3 linked regions of the Homo sapiens genome follow. The protein of the gene in region 1 purifies or fractionates together with the protein of each later gene. This does not show direct contact. Each region holds a gene or a part of one and is shown on either strand. Other genes may lie near its edges.

Region 1 (3,751 bases):
AGGTTTCGCCTAAAGGAAAGTACCCCTAGGCCAGGCACAGTGGCTCATGCCTGTAATCCCAGCACTTTGTGAAGCCGAGGTGGTGATCCTTAGGATCACCTGAGGTCAGGAGTTTGAGACCAGACTGGCCAACATGGTGAAACCCCATCTCTACTAAAAATACAAAAATTAGCCAGGTATGGTGGCACGTGCCTGTAGTCCCAGTTATTCAGGAGGCTGTGGTGGGAGAATCGCTTGAACCTGGGAGGCAGAGGTTGCAGTGAGTCGAGATTGTGCCATTCCATTCCAGCCTGGGCAACAGTGCGAGACTCTGTCTCCAAAAAAAGAAAAAAAAAAAAAAAAAAGGAGAGTACCCCTGATTCCTAAGAGTTTAAAACCACCATTCTTTCCCAGCCCTCTCATTTCACAGAGAACGCCAGGGCTCAGAGAGGGGAAAAGGCCACATCCATTTCATTCAGCTTCCTCACGTTCATGAAGGGTTCATTTGTTCATTGTCAGTATACAGCACTGGGCAGAGTGCTGACTCTGGGCTTGAGCTTTCTAATGAATCAAAGTGACATCACCCCCTAGGTGATGCTGGCCAGCATTTGATGGATGGAGATAACAGAAAGTCATCTACACTGGTTGCCGTTCTGCTGCGTGCACGTCTCTGCATTCCTGGCCTGGCCAGCAGGTGGCAGCAGCACCTCAGCCTTCAATCCGCCTTTCAGAGACGGGGGTACTGGGCTGAAGACCCCGGACACCAGTCCCTTCCAGTGACTCTGTCCCACTCCTACACCTCCCCAACAACACTCTGATTCCAATTAGAGTGATCATCACTTTGATATTCGAAAGCCATATGCATTCATTTACTGTAAGAACAGTAGATTACATCTTGTAATCATGGGCTTACAAGTCTGTCCTCTACTAATTGGAGTTATCTGGGGGCGGAGGGGGACCTGGTCCTGTTCCTGTATCCATGCCCAGGAGCACCTGATCCCCAAACAAACACCGAGGGCTATTGAGGGAATAACTAAGTAGGTGGCATTTTATTACTAAAGTCACAGAATGCTAGGCAGTGACCAAGGGGAACTTGGATAAACATTGTCCTTTCAGGGGAGACATGGGGGCAGCTCTCAGGAACTGCCATGCCTTTGCCTCCCAGGAGCAGGCAGGAAATGGAATATTAGCCTGGGTGGGGCTCTGACTGGCCTAGGCAATGCTTTGCCTCCTTCTCAGGTACCCAGGACCCTCCCATTGGCACTAATGAGGAGCAGCCGCTTGGGGGGCCCTGAAGCTGGCTGCAGCCACATTTGGAAGCCAAGCCTCCTGAGTCAGGGGCATCCAGGGGATTCTGCCAGCTCTCTCTTTGTAGGTCACTCTTTATGGAATACAGTTGGAAAACCACTGGACTAGATAATCCGTAAGGCTCCTTCCAGCTCCGAAAAGCTCTGAGCTGTAGAATCGTATTGTGAAGGGTGAGACCTGAAGCACATTTACAAATTCCTTTCTTAAGTAAGCGGGAAAGTGGCTGCAGCTGCCCCATAAACAGTCCCTTGATTAAAAGGACAAAGGAGGCCGGGCACCGCAGCTCACACCAATAATCCCAGCACTTAGGGAGGCCAAGGCAGGTGGATCACCTGAGGTCAGGAGTTCAAGACCAGCCTGGCCAACGTGGCAAAACCCCGTCTCTACTAAAAATATAAAAATTAGCCGGGCATGTTGGTGGGTACCTGTAATCCCAGCTACTCAGGAGGCTGAGGCAGGAGAATGGCTTGAACCCGGGAGGTGGAGATTGCAGTGAGTCAAGATCACGCCACTGCACTCCAGCCTGGGGGACAGAGCAAGACGCTGTCTCAAAAAAATATATAAAAATAAATAAAAGGACAAAGGATGCCTTGAAGCCAGAGGGAGGTAAGATGCTGGTCCAGGCTTGACCGCACAAGATGACTTTAGGTGCTAGACCTCTGAACCTCATGGATTTATGTTTACAATGACCTTTGATTTCCAACAAGTGATGCTAGTTCTCCGTTTATGGAAACAATGCAAAGTTTCTTCTAAAGTAAGAGTTAAAATAGCAAGACCGTTGGAAGAGCAGACAGTGGTGCTGGGGCTTTGAGGGTACAGCAGGCATCGTGAATGTGGCTCTGAAGGCCTGATATTCGAGAAGTTCTAGCCGGGGCCTGAGAGATGGCTCATTTGAGACATTTCAATATAGTCAGGCTGGGTGTGTGATGAACCAAGAATGGGGAGAGAAACAATCCCTTCTTCCCTTTTGGGGGTATCTGGTATGCACCTTGATCCAGGGGGCAGTAAAGGGCAGGGACTTCAGGGTGCACTTCTGCTTGTCTAGGGGTTTGGAGAACAGACACCTGAGACTCAGACAGGTCTCTCTGGCCTCCAGGGACATGTCCAGCCTCCTCTGCGTGCCCGCTCCTCTAGAAACCTTCCCATCTCACAGCCCACACTGCCACCCTCCAGGGTGAGGCACCGAGCCAGGAAGAGGCCTTACCAAACTTGGAGTAGAAGTAGCACTCAGGCATCCTGGTGAGGTCATACTGGTGCAGGAACTTGCAGTGATCACCCTTCTTGCAGAGCCCCCGGAGCCAGTGCTTGCATACCACCATCTTCTCCCCTCGGTCATGTCGGAAGGGGCAGAGTTTCCCTGGAGATGCCAGAGCACCTGGCTGGGAGGCCCCTCATCCACAGCCTGGGCCCAGCTCAGCCCTCCAGGGGATTCCCCAGGAGGGTACCTGACTCAGTCCCCAGCGGCTGTCCCCTTATCCCTTCACCTGGACCCTGTAGGGGCTGGAACTGGGAGCCGAGGCAGCATGAAGGGAGAGCTTTTTTTTTTTTTTTGAGACAGAATCTCGCTCTGTCGCCCAGGTTGGAGTGCAGCGGCGCGATCTTGGCTCACTGCAAGCTCCGCCTCCTGGGTTCACGCCATTCTCCTGCCTCCATTTCCTGAGTAGCTGGGACTACAGGCGCCAGCCACCACGCCCTGCTAATTTTTTGTATTTTTTAGTAGAGACAGGGTTTCACCGTGTTAGCCAGGATGGTCTCGATCTCCTGACCTTGTGATCTGCCCACCTCGGCCTCCCAAAGTGCTGGGATTACAGGCGTGAGCCACCGCGCCCAGCCAAGCTCTTGTTTTTGAGATGGCGTCTCGCTCTGTTGCCCATGCTAGAGAGCAATGGCACGGTCTCAGCTCACTGCAACCTCCACCTCCCAGGTTCAAGTGATCCTCCTGCCTCAGCCTCCCAAGTAGCTGGGATTACACCTGCAACTACACCCGGCTATTTTTTTTATTTTTAGTAGAGACGGGGTTTCACCATGTTGGCCAGGCTGGTCTCGAACTCCTGATCTCAGGTGATCCATCCGCCTCAGCCTCCCAAAGTGCTGGGATTACAGGCTTGAGCCACCGTGACTGGCCAGGGCAAGCTCTTCTTAAAGCACAGCTGTTCCCACTACCACACCTTTGCCCATCCTTCCCATCTGCCTGGAGTGCCATGCCCTTCTCCAGGGAAGTACCTGGGCTCAGAACAGCTGCCTCCTTTTCATTCCCAGAGTGCCTAACACCCCCTCTCGTCCTGCCAGGGAGCGGGGCCAGGCTTTCCAGCCCAGAATCCCCACACCCAGCCCAGCCCCTGGCACATAGTAAGTGCTCAGTAAGGGTGTGTTGAATTCCCATCTTTAAAAACATCAAATGTTATGCTTCCCGATTCCAGAGACCTAACAGGGTGACAGAAGAGCCAACTTTGTAATGATTTAT
Region 2 (3,751 bases), on another chromosome or scaffold:
GATCTGGGAATAGTGACTACCTCTTTATGCACTTTCTATTATTTAATCCTCTTCATAACCCCATGAATAATGTATTTTTTACTTCTCATTGTTGAGAAAAGAAAATGTGATTAAATAACTTGCTGAAAGTCACATAACAAGTTATGAGCTATTCCTGGATATGAATATAAGTTTATTTTATTCTAAAGTCTATGTGTTTATATTGCCCACAGGTTACATGTTCTACAAGGACGGGTACCAGTCTAATTTGTTCTCCACTGGCCTATGCTATGTGTTCAATAAATATTAGTTAATTTATTCGTGCTTTTGATTGCTATAAAGAATTTTTTTTTTTTTAGACCAAGTCTTGCTCTGTTGCCCAGGCTGGAGTGCAGTGGCACCATCTCGGCTCACTGCAACCTCTACCTCCCAGGTTCAAGCGATTCTCCTGCCTCAGCCTCCCGAGTAGCTGGGATTACAGGCACGTGCCACCATGCCCAGCTAATTTTTGTATTTTCAGTAGAGACGGGGTTTCACCATGTTGGCCAGGTTGGTCTCAAACTCCTGACCTCAGGTAATCCACCCGCCTCTGCCTCCCAAAGTGCTGGGATTATAGGTGTGGGCCACCGCGCCCAGCCTGCCATAAAGATTTTATGATTTTTTAGCCATTTTTTTTAAAAATTGTGCATATACATTCCTAATTTTAGGAATTAGGAATAATAGGAACTAAAAGCCAAAAGGAGAAACTACATTTATAAACTCACACATTACAGCAAAAAGTATTTTTAAATAAAATCACTTGTTAAAGGTTATAAATTGCCAATTTATATTCACTAGGTAAGCTTTTATTTTCAAAAGGAACAAAGGCCTCTTCCCCATTTGAGCCCCAGTTTCTTAAACTGACCTGATTATGTGGCTAAGGTATTATTGTGAGGTATTGATGTTTTCTCCTGTTTTTCCTTCCCCTTCCTCCCCACCCCTTTTCCCCCTTTCCAGAGTTTTGTTCTGTGGCATTGCCTTGGGTAAGTACACGGCAGGGCAAATAGCAGAGTGACGGCAAATCTTTCAGATTTTCACTTTTTCAAAGTAAGAGAGACCGAACTGGGGCCATGAGAACAGAGACATCCAACTACTGTGTAATTCATAAGAGTTTAGAAATGACTCCTTGTGCACCCTTTTTCAGGCCCTTTTACAAATGGACTTTTCTCACTTGTGATGATCTGGGAGAGTGAGAGTGAGGAGAGTCTAAGAAGAGTTCAGGCTAATTATTTTCCCACTAATCTGGCATAGGAGAGGCTCACAGAGATTAAATTCATTATGGTAAATACAAAGAGTAATACTGCTTTACACTCGGGTCTGTAGACTGAGATTCACACTCACCACAATTATTCCTGTTAACAGTCTGCCACATACCTTTCATTTTAAGCAACTGAAAAATTGTACCAACTTTTCTCTTTAAATTTGCTTTAAAAGCAAATTCAGAAAATTGGTAGAGGGTCAAGAAATTACACAGTCCAACTCCATTATTTGATAAATTGTATAAAAAGCAAACTAAGGCAAGAATCAACTGACTTCCAAAGTTCACGAAGAGAGCACTCTGGAAGTTGATAAACCACCAAACCATATAAATTCCACCACCTCTTTATCTGTAATTAAAAATCAAAGGTTGACTTTTTTTTTTTTAACTACTCACTGTATTTTTAGAAAGATGGGGCAGAACCACTGTAGAACTCCTAAACCCCACAGAACAAACAGTACATTCTGGAATGATACGCCGGCCAATCCGGCTGGCAGCCGATTGACCTGACCCAGGCGAGGGTTGCTGCACCGAGTATTTAGTTTGGCCCCCTACTGAATGAAGACACTTTGTTAAATTCTCCAATGAGAGACGCTTAGAGGTAGGGGCGTGGAAGGGGGCCGGGGAATTTGAGGCCAGATAACGGGAAGTGTGAGCCGATTGGCCGGACTTCTCACTCCACGGCCCAGCCGTTTACGGATCGCGGAGGCCATCCATCAAAAGAATTACACCAATCAGCGGCGAAAATGCCCCCTTCTCGCGAGAAAGCCCCGCCCTCCAATATATTCCTCGTTAGGGCAGGCGCGGCCCCTTCGGCTCCGAGCTGACCCTGATCAGGGCCGAGTTGTCTCGGCGGCGCTGCCGAGGCCTCCACCCAGGACAGTCCCCCTCCCCGGGCCTCTCTCCTCTTGCCTACGAGTCCCCTCTCCTCGTAGGCCTCTCGGATCTGATATCGTGGGGTGAGGTGAGCAGGCCCGGGGAGGGTGGTTACCGCTGAGGAGCTGCAGTCTCTGTCAAGGTGAGTGGGACTGCGCGGGAGTTGACCGCCAGGTGCGGGTGGGGAGCTGGGTTGGGGGCGCGGGGCGAGGAGTAGGTCTGGCCCGCGCCCTTTTCCACACTAAACTCTACCGCTGTTGTGAGCACAAGCCCAGGCTAGTCCGAGGCTGGAGGGGCGGAGCCGGATCCGGCCTCCTGAGGTGCCTTTCGTGTCTGCCGACCCAGTCCCAGGGACTAGCCTGGGGAGGAAGAATGGAACCCCTGCAGTTAGAGGTTCCTCACATGACTAGCTCTGAAGACCTCCTGCCTTCCTGTCTTTAGTTGGTGTGGGAGGGACCTTCCATGTATCCAGGGCTTAGCTTGTGCCCGGGACATGGTTGTGTTATGCACACTTAAATCAATGGAATTCCCAGGTTCATCTTTCAGACTAGGTTAGCAACAACCCACCGCACCCCCCCGCCCCAATACGTGCTCCTAATGTCACCTTTTAAGTTTCCTTTCCTAACAACAATAAAAGTTAAGTAATATTGAGTATTGTGTGCCAAGCACTGTGCTATACTCTTTAAGTGGTGAATCATCTTGTTCAGTCTTCACATTCAGCGACAGATATTGTTACCCTCATTTTATAAATCTAGAAAGAAGCTCAAGCTCATTATTATTGTTCAGTGTTTTTTAAGCGTCTACTGTATGTGCTAAGCTCTTTACGTGATTTCATTTTAACTCACAAATCTGTGAGGTAGGTCATAAACCTTATCCCTACTTTATCAATGTGGAACTAAGTACAATTAAGTAACTTGAACAGTTCATTTTGTTAATATGTGGCAGAATACTTAACTACCATCTGCTTTTCACTTTCGGTATCCTGTCTTACGGTGTTTATTCGTGGTTATCTATTGACAGTGAATAACTTGAACAAGTATTTCTTGAAGATTTGCATTTTATTTTTCTAAAAAGCATGGTTCCGACCGGGCGCGGTGGCTCACGCCTGTAATCCCGGCACTTTGGAAGGCCGAGGCGGGCAGATCACAAGGCCAGGAGACCGAGACCATCCTGGCCAACATGGTGAAACCCCGTCTCTACTAAAAATATAAAAATTAGCTGGGCGCGGTGGCGCATGCCTGTAATCCCAGCTCCTCGGGAGGCTGAGGCAGGAGAATCGCTTGAACCAGGGAGTCGGAGGTTGCAGTGAGCCAAGATCGTGCCACTGTACTCCAGCCTGGCAACAGAGCGAGACTCCTTCTCAAAAAAAAAAAAAAAAAGCATGGTTCCTTCCCTCTAGGAACTCAATTTAGGATGTGACCAACTTGTAGAAGGGAAATAAATAACAGATGGCACTTTGCAATGACTTAGATGCACTAGCCGCATTGGGGGATGGGAGGCTTATAAATCATTTCTTGGCCCAGTGCAAAGATGGCCAAGGAAAGCAGGAAGGACTACTCTTACACTCCTTGCTGGTCTTTTTTTCTATATATAGATGAT
Region 3 (2,796 bases), on another chromosome or scaffold:
CTGGCACACAATGTTTAAATTCTAAATATATTTTACTTCCTAGTGTATTGCTACTGACAAAACGTAGTTTTCTGGACTCATCAGAATGTTAGGCTCATACCTTCTGGCAATAAATTAAGGTAGTTAAAAGTAACTGCTGAACCTAAAATGAAGGCAGCAGCAATTAGATATAAAAAAATCTTAAGATCAGCCTGCAAATTGTAAACTAGTTTACAAAGCAGGCTATACAATGAGGAATAATTCGAGCTTGTAGAAATCCATGGTTTCCACCAGATACAGGTATTCCGGATCTAGAATTATCTTTCTATTTGCAGGATTTCCGAAGAGACCGTTAAGCATCTACGCGCCCCTTCCTGGATCCCATGCTTCTTGGGGCAGGAAATTTCTTTTGGTCCGTCGCTTTCGTCGTGAAATACACAACTAATTTTCCTTTCATGTTATAAGGCACCATATTTATGATTTTGTTAACTGAAGAAAAAACCCGAGATAAACCATCTTAAGTACTTTTAAAAGTCCAGTGGCTGAATTCGGTGTTTAATCTGATACCCTTCTGGATTCGCTGACACTGGAGAGAATAATTTCCAAGTCTTAGTATAGCCAAAACAAAAAACTACCGTCGCTAAGCTACATCTACCACTGGATTTTAAAATGACAAAACAGCCTGAGAAAAATCACAAGAGCAGCTAACTCGAAGAAAAATCCTTTTTCTTTACTCAGCCGAACCTAAGACCACAGTTACTTCGAAAGCAACTTCTAATAACCGTCTCACATCCTGTCACCAGTTCAATGACAAAATCTCAGTTTTCAGAGCGTGTGCCAAGTCCAGCACAAAAAGCTGACATCGAGGAGCTCCCAACGCTGCTGTCGCCTCCGCTGGCAGCAGCCGCTCCCGGATTAGACTCGCAGGCTGTTAGGGCAGGGCCTTCGCCACGGGCTTCCGCACAGCGGCGTGCAGTCCTCAGCTCGGCCGGCGCGGTCTCCGACGGCGCTGGCTCCGCGTACTTCCCCAGCGGCGAGGGCGCGAGGTCCTCACACGGGCAGCACCTTGGCGAGGCCGGCGCCGCGGCCCAGGCGACCCAGTGCGAGGCGCAGCGCGGTGCCGCCGCCCCAGGGCAGCAGCCCAACCAGCGCGGCCAGCAGCGCGGCCACCTGCGCGCCCGCGCCCAGCACCGTGAGCAGCGTGCTGCGAAGGCCCAGCGCGGCGAACAGCGTGGCGCCCAGCGCTGCCATGTAGAGCAGCGCGGGCCGGGACGGCGCTTCTTCGCAGCGCAGCAGGCGTCCGCACGCCGCGCCGCCCCGCAGCAGCGCGCTTCCCGCCAACGCCAGCGCCGAGCCCAGTGACCAGAGCAGCGCGAACTTGCGCGCGCGCAGCAGCAACACCGGTGCGTAGAGCGCGGCTAGGCCGAAACACAGTGCAGCCAGCAGCAGGCACCCGCCGCCCGCCGCCAGCCGCTGCCCGCGCGTCACGCTCGGGAGGCACGTCAGGCCGGCCGCTGCCGACTCCGCAGGGCTCCGCGCCCACGTCCAGCGCAAGCCCGCGCGGCCCAGCCACTCCTCCGCCGGCCGGTCCCCGGGCTCCTCCGCCTTCTCCGCGGCGAGCAGCGGCTCCGCGGCCGCCGGGCCGCCAGCTTTCCCCTGCGCCAGGTACTCCTGCAGCTGGCGGTGGAGGTCCGCCATCTTGGACAAGGCGGTGGCAGAAAGGAAAAGCTGCGGCTCACTTCCGGCCCTCCGCTGAAGCGGTTCGGTCTTCGGGCGGCAATTGGTCGGCGACGGCGAAAGGGGCAGGGCCTGCGGCGCTCGCGGAAGTGCCGCGGTGCCTGCTCTGCGGACTTTTGTGGTGTCCCCAAGTACCGTGGTCGCAGGTGCTGCCTGTCCGCTTGCAGTCGCCCTCCCAGCGCCTGACCCTCTTCCTTGTTCGGAGTAGGCGCCCTTGCGGTCTGGCTAAGTCCTGCCAGCATTAATAGTTGGAAGGCAGGGGTGGGTGTGGTTCTAAAGGGGCACAAGAAGTGACCCTTTTGCTGACGGAAATGTCTTATGGCCTCACTGCGTCTACCGTGGCGGTGATATTGTGCTAGTTTTGCAACATGGAGGAATGGGTAAAGGGTACACAGAATCTCTCTTGTTTCTTACAACTGAACACAAACAGTGATCTCAAAATAAAAATTTAATTTTTAAAAAAGTTCAGACCTGTGTAACTCAGGTGGGTTTTTTGGGGAAAGTTGCGTTCTGATTAGTTACCTCACTTGTAGTAATAGTGACCATCCTGATCATTTACCATGGGGTTGATAAAGGAAGGGTTGACACCCAGCACCCTCAACCTGCTTCTCTATTCTGTTCTCAGTTTCGGCCACAGGCCTGGCAACATCCTTGACTCCTTCGCGCCCCTTGTCCAAGACTCGGTGCTGCTGTCCCATGTGTTTGGTGTCACTCTCGTGCTCTGGACAGCGCCACGCCCAGGTGTCCTGACTCATCGTCACATCACTGTGACAAGCTGGCTCGCACGCAGGTCAATCCTGATCTGTTCCCAGGCCGCACCCACGTGCCCTGCTGTTTCTCAGAGCCTCCTAGAGGGTGTTTGCTTGTGGTTCCTCTCACAGGTCAGATTCCTCCAGATTCTTCCAGCTGCCTCCACAGCTCCCCTCACCACCTTGGCTTCCCCTGGGTGGCCCTGTGTCCTTTGTCCTCTGCCCTAGGTGGATGTAAGGTTAACGGCTTCCTGCTGTTTGGCTTCTCAGCCTTTCCATCCCCTGTGTGTAACTAATCTCCCCCATTAAGTTCCTTTTAATGCTTTCTGTT

What was found.
Region 2: the proteins of CPSF4L (region 1) and CCNG1 purify together in Homo sapiens (affinity purification with mass spectrometry; 3 studies listed by BioGRID and IntAct, with this or other methods). This does not show direct contact.
Region 3: the proteins of CPSF4L (region 1) and WDR33 purify together in Homo sapiens (affinity purification with mass spectrometry; 3 studies listed by BioGRID and IntAct, with this or other methods). This does not show direct contact.

The regions. Positions count from the first base shown.
Region 1 is NC_000017.11:73,255,190-73,258,940, forward strand, and holds part of CPSF4L (putative cleavage and polyadenylation specificity factor subunit 4-like protein), read right to left. Parts: intron 2,645-3,751; coding exon 2,492-2,644; intron 1-2,491.
Region 2 is NC_000005.10:163,435,511-163,439,261, forward strand, and holds the start of CCNG1 (cyclin-G1), read left to right. Parts: upstream 1-2,084; 5' UTR 2,085-2,294; intron 2,295-3,746; coding exon 3,747-3,751. UniProt on the Homo sapiens protein: May play a role in growth regulation. Is associated with G2/M phase arrest in response to DNA damage. May be an intermediate by which p53 mediates its role as an inhibitor of cellular proliferation.
Region 3 is NC_000002.12:127,700,410-127,703,205, reverse strand, and holds the end of WDR33 (pre-mRNA 3' end processing protein WDR33), read left to right. Parts: 3' UTR 1-1,029; coding exon of another isoform or gene 1,030-1,677; 3' UTR 1,678-2,179; downstream 2,180-2,796. Other genes in the region: SFT2D3 (vesicle transport protein SFT2C), read right to left, coding at 1,030-1,677. UniProt on the Homo sapiens protein: Essential for both cleavage and polyadenylation of pre-mRNA 3' ends.